3 linked regions of the Homo sapiens genome follow. The protein of the gene in region 3 purifies or fractionates together with the protein of the main gene of each other region. This does not show direct contact. Each region holds a gene or a part of one and is shown on either strand. Other genes may lie near its edges. The genes, in order: IL37, ASAH1 and GSG1.

What was found.
Region 1: the proteins of GSG1 (region 3) and IL37 purify together in Homo sapiens (affinity purification with mass spectrometry; 3 studies listed by BioGRID and IntAct, with this or other methods). This does not show direct contact.
Region 2: the proteins of GSG1 (region 3) and ASAH1 purify together in Homo sapiens (affinity purification with mass spectrometry; 2 studies listed by BioGRID and IntAct, with this or other methods). This does not show direct contact.

What each region holds. Positions count from the first base shown.
Region 1 is NC_000002.12:112,914,014-112,917,764, forward strand, and holds part of IL37 (interleukin-37), read left to right. Parts: intron 1-1,179; coding exon of another isoform or gene 1,180-1,246; intron 1,247-3,115; coding exon 3,116-3,235; intron 3,236-3,621; coding exon 3,622-3,751. UniProt on the Homo sapiens protein: Immune regulatory cytokine that acts as a suppressor of innate inflammatory and immune responses involved in curbing excessive inflammation.
Region 2 is NC_000008.11:18,077,391-18,081,141, forward strand, and holds part of ASAH1 (acid ceramidase isoform a preproprotein), read right to left. Parts: intron 1-3,751. UniProt on the Homo sapiens protein: Lysosomal ceramidase that hydrolyzes sphingolipid ceramides into sphingosine and free fatty acids at acidic pH.
Region 3 is NC_000012.12:13,089,924-13,093,674, forward strand, and holds part of GSG1 (germ cell-specific gene 1 protein), read right to left. Parts: intron 896-3,751; coding exon 580-895; intron 1-579. UniProt on the Homo sapiens protein: May cause the redistribution of PAPOLB from the cytosol to the endoplasmic reticulum.

The sequences.
Region 1 (3,751 bases), on a different chromosome or scaffold from region 3:
ATTAGGAGATAACTCTGGGAAAGATGAGCCCGGGGAGGGGCAGGTGATGCTCACCTGCTAAGAGGCACAGGGCAAGGAAGAGTTTGTGCCTGGGAACCTTCCAGGTGCCTCTTCTGACCATAGCCAAGAGACTGGAGACACAGACCTCCTCCCAGCACTGAGGACAAACAGCCATGGGGCCAGTGGGGGTGCAGGGACACCCACACCACTAAGGGCTCAGGGCGGCGCCTTCAGAGCCTGAACCTTCCTCTCATGCTGCCATTTGAACACCACAACACCCTAATAGGAAACTGTTAACATTGCCACTGTTCAGGTGTGGAAACCGAGACAGACAGTGGAGATTCCCTGCCCTAGGTGACACAGGTAATAAGTGACAGATGTGGAAATTTAAAGGTACTATAACGTCTGTCTGCCTGACTCAGGCTTAAGGCTCCCATCACCTCCTCTTCTCAGGACAGAGTCAGGAGGCCTCAGCCTGAGCCCCAGCTCTAGTGCAGGTTCATGTGGGAATACTGAGCCTCACTAGTACAATGGCAGAGAGGACCAAATGGGACCAGGTGTGTAAGGGTGCCTGGCACAGTTGGGGGAGGCTGCTGTCACTTCTCCACCGCTGCTGCTGCAGTTACCTTTGATGTTTTAGTTTTGTTGTAGTTACACCATTGCTGGCTTTGGATCTGCACTGTGTCCACTCCAGGTGGAACCACGCACACAAGCCTCTCTGTCGGGCCTGTCCTGACTTCTCCTTGTCAGGGCTGGGATCTCCTTCAAATCTGGCGGAAGTGGTTCTCCAAGTCTGGTCCTCAAACGTCAGCAGCATCAGCGCCTAGAAGTGTTAGGAATACACATTCCCAGGCCCCACCACAGACCTCCTGCCTCAGAAACTCAGGGCGCTGAGGCTCTAGGGGCTGCTTTAACAAGACTTCCAGGTTATCGTGACGCACCTTGAAAGTCTGAGAGCTACTGCCCTACAGAAAGTTACTAGTGCCCTAAAGCTGGCGCTGGCACTGATGTTACTGCTGCTGTTGGAGTACAACTTCCCTATAGAAAACAACTGCCAGCACCTTAAGACCACTCACACCTTCAGAGTGGCCTTGAGAAAGATTTGGGGTCAAGGATCATGAGCGAGAACACCACTTAAGAGGATAGTGAACTAGTCTGCATGTGAGACGCTGAGATCCTATGTCAGGCTGTGATAGGAGGGAAACAGAAACCAAAGGAAAGAACAGCTTTAAGAAGCGCTTAAGAGGTACAAAGTAAAATGATGGTGCTAGAAAAGTAGCTTCTTAAAAAGAGCATTTTCCAGTCTCACCCTGGACTAACTGAATGAGAATCTCAGGAGTGTGAGGCCCAGGTATCCATGGTCTTAAAATGCCACCCACCAGGTGATTCCCAGTGTGCACCAGGGGTGAGAGTCACAGCCTTAGGCCATGCCACTCAAAGGGTGTCTTCAGACCAGCAGCACCCACAGCTCTGGGAGTGCATCAGAAAGACAGAGGCTTGGCACCACCCACACCTACTGAACCATAGTTTGCAGGTGATTTCTTGCACATTAAAGTGTGGGAAATGGAAAAGCTTAGAGTTCAGCTAGCTCGGTGACTCTCAGTCAACCTGCACCTGCTCCATGAACTCAGACTGCCTGGGATGGGCCCAGAAAAGCTCCTGAGGAGATTCTGATGTAAGGCAGGGCTGATAACCATGGATCTCATCTGACCCCATATCACTGGGGAGTTACTTAGGATCTTGCCTGGGGCCAGTCATCTCTTCCATAGACACTGAGAGTGTCCACGATGCTTGGGGCACTACAGGGTGGGAGGTGGAGGATCACGGGTGAGTCAGATAGGAAGCCTGCTCCTGGGGAGCTTACAGTGCTATAGGGCAGCGAGCCAAGGATGCCAATACCTGTGTGCAGGTACCACTGACGAGTGCAGAGCGCTGCAGCACCAGAGAGGAAGCTACCCTGTGCAGAGGGGGCTGAGGAGGGCTGCAGGGAGATGACAGGAAAGCCGGTGTTACAGGAGGAGTCCTCCCCACTCTTTGGGCATGAGGAGACCAGGAGGACATTCTACAGTGAGAAACCCAGGCAGAGGCCATGTGCTTATGGCATGGGAAAAGAATGACACCTTAGACTTATTCTCTACATTAGAATTGCCTACCACAGATACCCATATTATAGCTTCACATAGTGTGGTGGTTACTGTGTTTTCATATTGTCACATTTGCCATTTTCCAGCCACCCACCCATTCTTGACAGTCACTGGCCCAGCCTGGGGGCCCCTGTTCTTTATCAAACAAGTGCCTGAGCTCTTTGCAGAGGTGAGGGTCACCTGTCCAATCAGAGGCCAGGAGGGAACGTTCCCTTTTAAGACCCTACTCTAGGCAGGCCTGGCCCAAATGAGTTGCTAGGAGCCCACGCCCTAAGAACCCTCTGAGCACTGTTGTGGCTGGTCCTGCTGCTAGAAGTTGTTCCTCCAGGGCCAGGTGCAAGATTTGTGGCTTTTCAAAGGAGCCACTAAAGCTCCAGCTCAGCCTTGCACCGTGCTGGGCTCCTGGGGGCTTCCTGCCTCCAACCCTCCCAACTCTTCCATCACCGCTCCCTTAGCCTGGCCAGTGCAGGGATCTGTTCCACTCTAGGCACTGCTGAGGGAATGATGCCTCCAGTCAGAGGGTGCAAAAAAGAGAGTTAAGAAAAACAATGATTATAAAAAGTCCTTTTTATACGCCAGACATTTTCTTTGCTCAGGCTAAGTGCTACTTATTTGAGTAAGCATTTTAGTTCTCATAACTCCTCTCTCAAGTAGGTGCTGCTATTACTTTCATTTCACAGATGAGGACATTGAGGTTTGGAGAGACTTAGTAACTTGTCCTCTGTCCTACAGCAGAGCTGGGATTTGAATCTATCTGTCCAAATCTGGAACCCATTTGCTTGCACAGAAAGCTTAATTGCTTGTCCCAGCAAGATAGAAAGCCTGGGAGTGGAAGAAATATTCAGTGGCTGTGATGTCTGAGCCCACAGGCAGGGTGGAGAGCTAGGGCTGGGGCCCTTGGACGTGGGGAAGAAAGGGCTGAGTCTTCCATTTTCAATGTGAAGTGTTGATATCTGGTGATATTGATCTAGGTCCAAAGGTGAAGAACTTAAACCCGAAGAAATTCAGCATTCATGACCAGGATCACAAAGTACTGGTCCTGGACTCTGGGAATCTCATAGCAGTTCCAGATAAAAACTACATACGCCCAGGTGACTCTCAGTTTTGGCTGTGTTTTCTGCCTCCACCTAGCAGGGGTAAGGCCTCCTGCTAGGTGGGCTCAACTCCATGCTATACCATGCCCCATCTCCAGCAGGTGGTGGAAGCGAGGAGGAGAGGCCCCAGGGACTAGGGCATCAGATGAAGGGTCTCTAGCAATGACCAGATCTGAAAGTAGTCTTTCTGGAAGGGCTGGAGAAAAAGAAGGAGGCAGACACTTAGACTGGAAGAAGAGGAGGCTTAAACCAGTGTGATGGAGGGAGAAGTGGACCACAGAGTCAAGGGAGAGGGACTGTGCATCAGGCCTGAAACCCCAGCAGACAGGAGAGACCTTTCCCTGCTCTCAGAACCCACACATGTTCTGACTGTCTTTTTCCAGAGATCTTCTTTGCATTAGCCTCATCCTTGAGCTCAGCCTCTGCGGAGAAAGGAAGTCCGATTCTCCTGGGGGTCTCTAAAGGGGAGTTTTGTCTCTACTGTGACAAGGATAAAGGACAAAGTCATCCATC
Region 2 (3,751 bases), on a different chromosome or scaffold from region 3:
ATCTTAGCAGATTCCATTCCAGGTTATACTCAATCATTATTTTCTCAGCTTCTTCGAAAACATCCTCGCCTGTAGTTGTTTTATACAGATGATTCAGAGGCTAACTCTTCAGTCACTTCAAACTTGGCAATGATCATCTAATAAATATCAACAACTGATCAGTTATCGGTATGTTGACAGTCAAGAAAAATCACTCAAAAATCACATGCTTTGTTCTTTAATTGATATTGATGTTCTTCCCAAAGTCCAGGACAAGGGTTCTCAATGACATGTAAAATAATTTCATTTTCCCTGGACACAATACTTCTGCTACTACAATCGAATACAATTTAGGTAATCCACCATTGGTAAATGGCTTTCCTTATTTTGCTAATAAATGAGCTACTTAGAGACTTATAGGGGTTGCAACTTAATTTTACTTTGTAAAATTTGTAAATAAGTTCTGCTGTGAGGAGATACTCCGCTTTACATTTTCTTGTTTATCTGACCATTGTTTTCCTATGAGTTGGGAATACTGTGATGGGTACTTAACCCAAGTGCTTAATTTTATGATCATGTTGTGGACTTAAGACCCTGCTCCATTAGTGACTTGTAGAAAGTTACACAGCTGGTGACAGAATCAGAGTCAATGGCTTTCCCTGTTCTATCAAACAGCTTCCCACAGAGATAATAAAACCAATGCCTCAATTTAATTCCTAACAGAATAATCTGCGCGTAGTTCAGGGCTTCTGGTGATCACTAGAATCAACTCGGCAAATTAAGTGAAACGTAATGACTCCTATCCCTTCCTAATAATGACATTTGCACGCCCTGGGTTCCAAAGCCAAAATAAACATCAAATTACAGGCACATTTCTTACTAGACAACTGTGAGCAAAGTTGAAAATGCTCTGTCTAGTATTAGGAGAGAATGTGACCTGCCCCAGAGGTAAGAACTAAAGAGCAAGCTAGCAACAATACATGTGGAGTGAGTCTGAGGTTGATAACGACTCTTGGTAGCAATAAACAAACGTGAAATTGGCATAGAACCTGGCTGCAAGGAAATAGGATAAGTGTGACAGAAAATAAGAAAGTTGGCAGCTATGAGACTACAGTATTTCAGGGGCTCACATGGCATGAACGCCTAAGTCGTTTATGCAAAAAGGTTAGTTTTAGGGGTAGGGTGGAAAAAAGAGCTACTTCCTCCCCCTCAAAAAAGAATTCTACAGGGAGACACAGCTTCAAAACCCACGAGTAGCCCTAAAACAGAATTATAATGAACTTACTTAATGTTATTTAAAGTTCCTTACTATCCCCAAGTTTATAAACAGTTTAATAACAGACAACTCTATTAAGGCAGGTAAAAACTTAAATAGATGATAGGTAAAGATTAGAAACAGATGATAAGAAGAGAGATTATGTGGTCTGGATGGTATACTATGTACACCCTATCACAGGAAACAAAATCCAACTTAGAATCAATTCTCTCTAACCCTCTCCCCACAGTACCTCTCTTTCTCTCTCTCTCCCTGCCCTTCCCTACCTTTCTCCCTGCCCCTCAGTGGTCTCCTAAGAGTGAAGATAAGTGGTAAAAATCTGATATTTCAATGCATTTGAAACTCTCTGGGCCAGGCATGGTGGCTCATGCCTGTAATTCCAGCACCTTGGGAGGCTGAGGTGGGTGGATCACCTGAGGTCAGGACTTCAAGACCAGCCTGGCCAACATGGCGAAATCCCCGTTACTACTAACAATGCAAAAATTAGCTGGGTGGCATGTGCCTGTAATCCTAGGTACTCGGAAGGCTGAGGTAGGAGAATTGCCTGAAGCCGGGAGGTGGAAGTTGCAGTGAGACGAGATAGTGTGACTGCACTCCAGCCTGGGAGACAGAGCAAGACTCCATCTCAGAAAAAAAAAAAAAACAAAAAACTCTCTGGAAAGTGCTTTTAAAAGACTGTTTGGGTCAGAAAATTCTCTAATTTTTCTGGTTATTTGATAGAAACTTAAGCCTCTTTGAATGTCCTCCCCATTCATTAAGAGAAATTAATTACAGAGCTACTGAACACAACATTCTAAAAAAAACACAAAAATATAAAGAGAACATTAAGGTCTCAATGAAAGCGCCATACCCTTAAAAAATGGCATAACTTGTACAGCTCCTTAAAATATTTGAGCCCGAAAGAATTAGGAGACCCTCAATGAAATAATGTATGCTTCTAATAGTGAATTTTAAAAGTCCAGAAAGCCCTTGTGTGCTTGTCTTATTGAAATACTCAGAAAGAGACAATGAAGGATAATCTAAAATTACATACCTCATGTCAGTTTTCATACCCACCAGAAGCCAAACAACTCTAGCCAGACAATTTTTCATTCATTCAATTCTTGAATTCATCAACAACTATTTTGCAGACAAGTTTTTCCTATAATGTCCTCTTATGTACAACTCAGCAGAAACACTGAATACAAAGAGGCATGTTTCCTACGTGTACAAGAATTCACATGAGCTTGAAAATGTTTTCACTTGTCTTCTGGGCTTTGATGGGATGGCATCCTATTAAGCTACTGATATTTAGGTCAAAGGAATGTGAATAAACCCTCCATGAGAGGAAGGACCTCATCTATCTCATTGGCTGACGCATTCCCAGCGTTTAGGAGTCTGGCACATAGTAGGCAAGCAGTATTTGTTGAATAAGTGAATGGATTACACCTGTGTGTTCCCTCTTTGGGAGAAGTAGGGAAAAGCAGATGAAGTGCAATAAATTCCTAGGCCAGATGGGGTCTATGAGATTTCTGGCAACTGCGTGAAAATCATTGCTAAAGCTGATTCAATAGCTAATGTCAACAATGTTGACATACGCTGTTAACTAGTATGAGAAGCTGATGCATAAAAATGAGTTTACAAGTTTACTTTGGCAATTAATTACTAAGCCATTACGTTTCATCTTCGCACATCTTATGAAGTGGGTCAGATTTATTACGCAGAGCAGCCATCTCTCCCCTCTAGTTCCTTTCCTGCCAATCACACTTAGCCTACCGCAAGCTGTTTTCTGCCCCCAACACTGCTCCAGTCGAGGTGACCAATGACCTCCAGTTGCCCAACATCATAATACCACTGACATCTCAATAATATTCAACATAGTTAACCTGTCCCAGTCTCTTCCCTGAGCTTCCTGTTCCACTTACTCTCCTATTTTTTTGTTTTTGTTTTCTGTGACGAAGTTTCGCTCATTGTCCAGGCTGGAGTGCAATGGCAGGATCTTGGCTCACTGCAACCTCTCCCTCCCAGGTTCAAGCAATTCTCCCGCCTCAGCCTCCTGAGTAGCTGGGACTACAGGCGTGAGCCACTATGCCCAGCTAATTTTTGTATTTTTAGTAGAGACAGGGTTTCTCCATGTTGGCCAGGCTAGTCTCAAACTCCTGACCTCACGTGATCTGCCCACCTTGGCCTCCCAAAGTGCTGGGATTACAGGCATGAGCCACCGCGCCCGGCCTGTCCTGTTTTAACTTTGGCAATTTCTCCTCTTCTTGACACATACATGTGCAAGTTACTTAGCCTTTGCCTAGTTCTCTTTTCTTCTCTTTCTCTATCCTATTTCTAGGTAAGTTCATCTGCTCCAAGGGCTTCAAATATAATATCATTATGCCAGTGACTCTCAGTGTCTCTCTTCTGAGTGCCAGTCCGAGTGGCCTGCTGGATGCCTCTCTGCCACCTGAAATTTAACATACACCCCAAATGAAAACGATCCTCATTCTTTAGCCCCCAAGCTTTCCCCTC
Region 3 (3,751 bases):
CTGTAATCCCAGCTACTTGGGAGGCTGAGGCAATAGAATCGCTTGAACCTGAGAGGCGGAGGTTGTGGTGAGCCAAGATCACACCATTGCACTCCAGCCTGGGCAACAAGAGCAAAACTCCATATCAAAAGAAAAAAGAAATGAAGTTACTTGTATGAGGTCACAGTTGAGCAGAGCTAGGGCTTTCCTACAATATTCCTCTCCCTTCGTTTTGTTTCTAAACAGCAATTCTAGCTCCCTAGACCAGAAATTCTCATAATGTGAAAGGTCTAAATGAAACTTTTAAGGTTAATTCTATTTTTAACATGCTATTTTGAACCAACAAGTCTACTACAGAGGGAGGAAGTGAAAATCCAGAGGACTTTCAACCTTATTAAAAGGGGCTCCTATAGAGAAGGACACTGGACGGAGGTGGAAGGTTCTGTGCTGGGAGAAGGGAGTGAGGCCCACTGGGGTGTGGGCAGTGCTGCACTTCCAGGGCAACGCCAGCCCTAAGCGGGCCTACCTGATTTCCATGCCTGCATTAGATCCCTTGCCCGCCCTGACCCCGTTGCTCTTATATCCCAGAATGTAGGCTACCTGGTTCTTCCACAGTTTCCTCACAGGATAGCCACATGCCACTCCGGAAGCTCCGGAAGGAGAACCGGTCATCCCCAGTCTCCCAGTTGTATTGTACCACCTCCTGGGTGGATGTGTTGGTATCTCCATCCAGGGACACTGGCATGTCAAAGCACTTGGCTGCCAGACCTTTCTCGCACAGGGGCTTGGGCACCTTCTGTGTGCCCACAAACCAGTAGTTGCTGAGCAGGGATGTTGTGGAGAAGCTGAGTGATAGCATGCTGAGGATGGCAGATAGGAGTGTCCGCTGGCCAGAGAAGGCCTTCGAGAGCTCCATCTGTAATAGACAAGCACAAGTGGAAGGGAAGGGAGCAGGGGAGCTTGACTCAGAGCCGCCTCGGAGATGTGGCCATCCTTCCCTGCACTCCCTCCGCTCAAGCCATACTCCTCCAAGGCAGATAGGCACAACCCGCCTCTGACATTTTTCTCCAGGGGCCGCATGGAAGCCCCGCTTCAGGAGTGGTCTGCAGCAAGCACCCTGAGGGCGTAAGAAAACCATACGCCCAAATGGGGGCCTCAGAAGCAGCTCTCTCTGACATTCTCCTGTCCTCCTGTCTCAGTCCCACTCTTTCCCAAGGCTAGCCACAGAAACTAGAATCCCTCTTTCTCAAGGTGGGTTGTAGAAACCAGAGTCCCTTTCCCCAGAGCCAGCCATAAAACCTAAAAATATTACTCTAACTTTCCCTCTGCCTTCCCGTGTCCAAACTGGCCCTAAAGAGGTTATCTGACCTAGCTTGTGTGACTGTAGGTCATAAGACTCCCATTCCAGAGAGGGTCCTGCCCCACACCCAGAAGGAAGAAATGCACGCTCAGAGAGGCCAAGGAGAAGCAGCCCTTGCTGGGTTTCCCCACTCAATCTATTAACATTATTAGATCAGGCCAGATGCAGTGGCTCATGCCTGTAATCCTAGCACCGTAATCCCTTCCAGAGGTGGGAGGATCGCTTGAGTTCAGGAATTCATGACCAGCCTGGGTAACATAGTGAGACCCTGTCTCTACGGAAAATAAAAAAATTAGCCGGGCACGGTGGCGCACGCCTGTAGTCCCAGCTACTTTTGAGGCTGAGGTGGGAGGATCACCTGAGCCCAGGAGGTTGAGGCTGCAGTGAGCCACGATCATGCCACTGCACTCCAGTCTGGGCAACAGGGCTATCTGTCTCTAAAAAATAAATAACAACAATAGATCATGGCCTTGATGTCCAATCATATTTCTATGTGACTGTCCATACTTTGTTGAACCTAAGCATAAAAATAGACAATTTTCCCTTCATCTTTGTGACTTCATTCTGAAGGTTCCCACGTCACGTGAAACTACGATCAAATAAACTTGAATGTTTTTTCTCCTATTAATCTGCCTCTTATCAGTGGTTTTCAGTGAACCTTCGGAGGGCAAAGGGAAAGTTTTCCCCTGGCTTTTACACAACACGGGGATGATGCATCTTTAAGTTGAACCTTACACAGATCCAACTACAGAAAAGTGGTGATTTGCATAGATTGAATGACAGGGGCTGGCCTCTGGGCATGATATGCAGCAATACACAGAAGTAGGATAAAGGTGATCCACCAGAGAGGACAAATTAGAATGAGGAATGCAGAAGTCAGAGTGAATTGGAAGTGAGTATGTTAAAATCTTCCATTTCTGCCTCAAATGGTGAGAGTGGAATCAACATAGCCTCCAGCCGGCAAATCCTAGGGAGGATGTATGTGTGTGTGTGTACCTTTATGGTGAGTGCCATAATGACCCCACCAACAAACAGCAGGGGGATCTTTCTGAGTAGCAGTGATGGATCTGCCAGCAGCCACTACCTGGAGTTCTTGGACCAGCAGATTGAGCGAGAGAGAGAGAAGGTGGATTGCTGCACATTTGATACCACTGCTGGCCAGGCCCTGTCTACTGAAGTCCTGCCCCTTCTGAGGCTCACCCCAAGTCCCAACTGCTTCAGGGAGGTCCCCTAACCAGCACCTTCCATGGGAAGTGAGGCTTGGAAGGGCTTCAAGGACTGTGGTGTGTGCCTTCTTAATAGTACTCTTTTCACATTTATTTTTGGTCATGTCTTATCTTCCCTCCAAGATTTCAAGCTGCCATTAGGTAGCAAAAACGTGTCTTTGTAATTTTTATCTTTCCCACAGCAACTAGCACAGTATTTTACACATTAGACACTCAACACTAAACTGCTGAGTAAATTGAGGGTGTTCTGAATAAGCATCAGATAGCAATAACCTCAGTCAGAGGATATATAAACTTTTTCTTTTTTTTTTTTTTTTATTGAGACGGAGTGTCACTCTTGTTGCCCAGGCTGGAGTGCAATGGCACAATCTCGGCTCACTGCAACCTCCAGTTCCCGGGTTCAAGAGATTCTCCTGCCTCAGCCTCCCGAGTAGCTGGGATTACAGGCGCCTGCCACCATGCCTGGCTAATTTTTTTTTGTATTTTTAGTAGAGACGGGGTTTCACCATATTGGCCAGGCTGGTCTTAAACTCCTGATCTTAGGTAATCTGCCCGCCTCGGCCTCCCAAAGTGCTGGGATTACAGGCGTTAAGCCACCACGCCTGGCCGGTTATATAAGCTTTTAACTTTATGTAAAATAACATTAATACATATAAATATATAATTATATAATTAATAATTGACAAGGCAATTGATAACTTCTGGAAAAGTTTTATGTAAAGTCTAAACTTTATATAAAAGTTTAGAAAAAAGAATTGGGAGCATTCCAAATGCTCTTTGTGATAATCGTTTTTGGCTTTGTCTTCACTGACAGGTAGTAGCACTGACTTGCTGAAGCATTTGCTATTGTAACAAAGTGAGCTATTGGTGTCCTTTTCCCTGCATTACAGATTCCTCTGAAAGGAGTCATAGCAATGAATATTAAACTGGAAATCTCCGGGGGAAGCAGATGGATGCTTTGGGGCCTGGAGGATAAAAGAGGGCAGTGAACCTACTGGGATGTGGGGCTATTGAAACCTTTGGAAAGGAGATGGGGCTTATGGTTCTGGGAGAGGTAGCAGTCGGGCCCAGCTTCCATCCACTGCCACAGAGACAATAGAGTTTCAAATGCGAGGTGGCTGTGTGGTGCCTGTGTAGGCTGGACACCAGGTTTGGTGTCCACAGAGCCATGGGTAGGGTGTCGGCA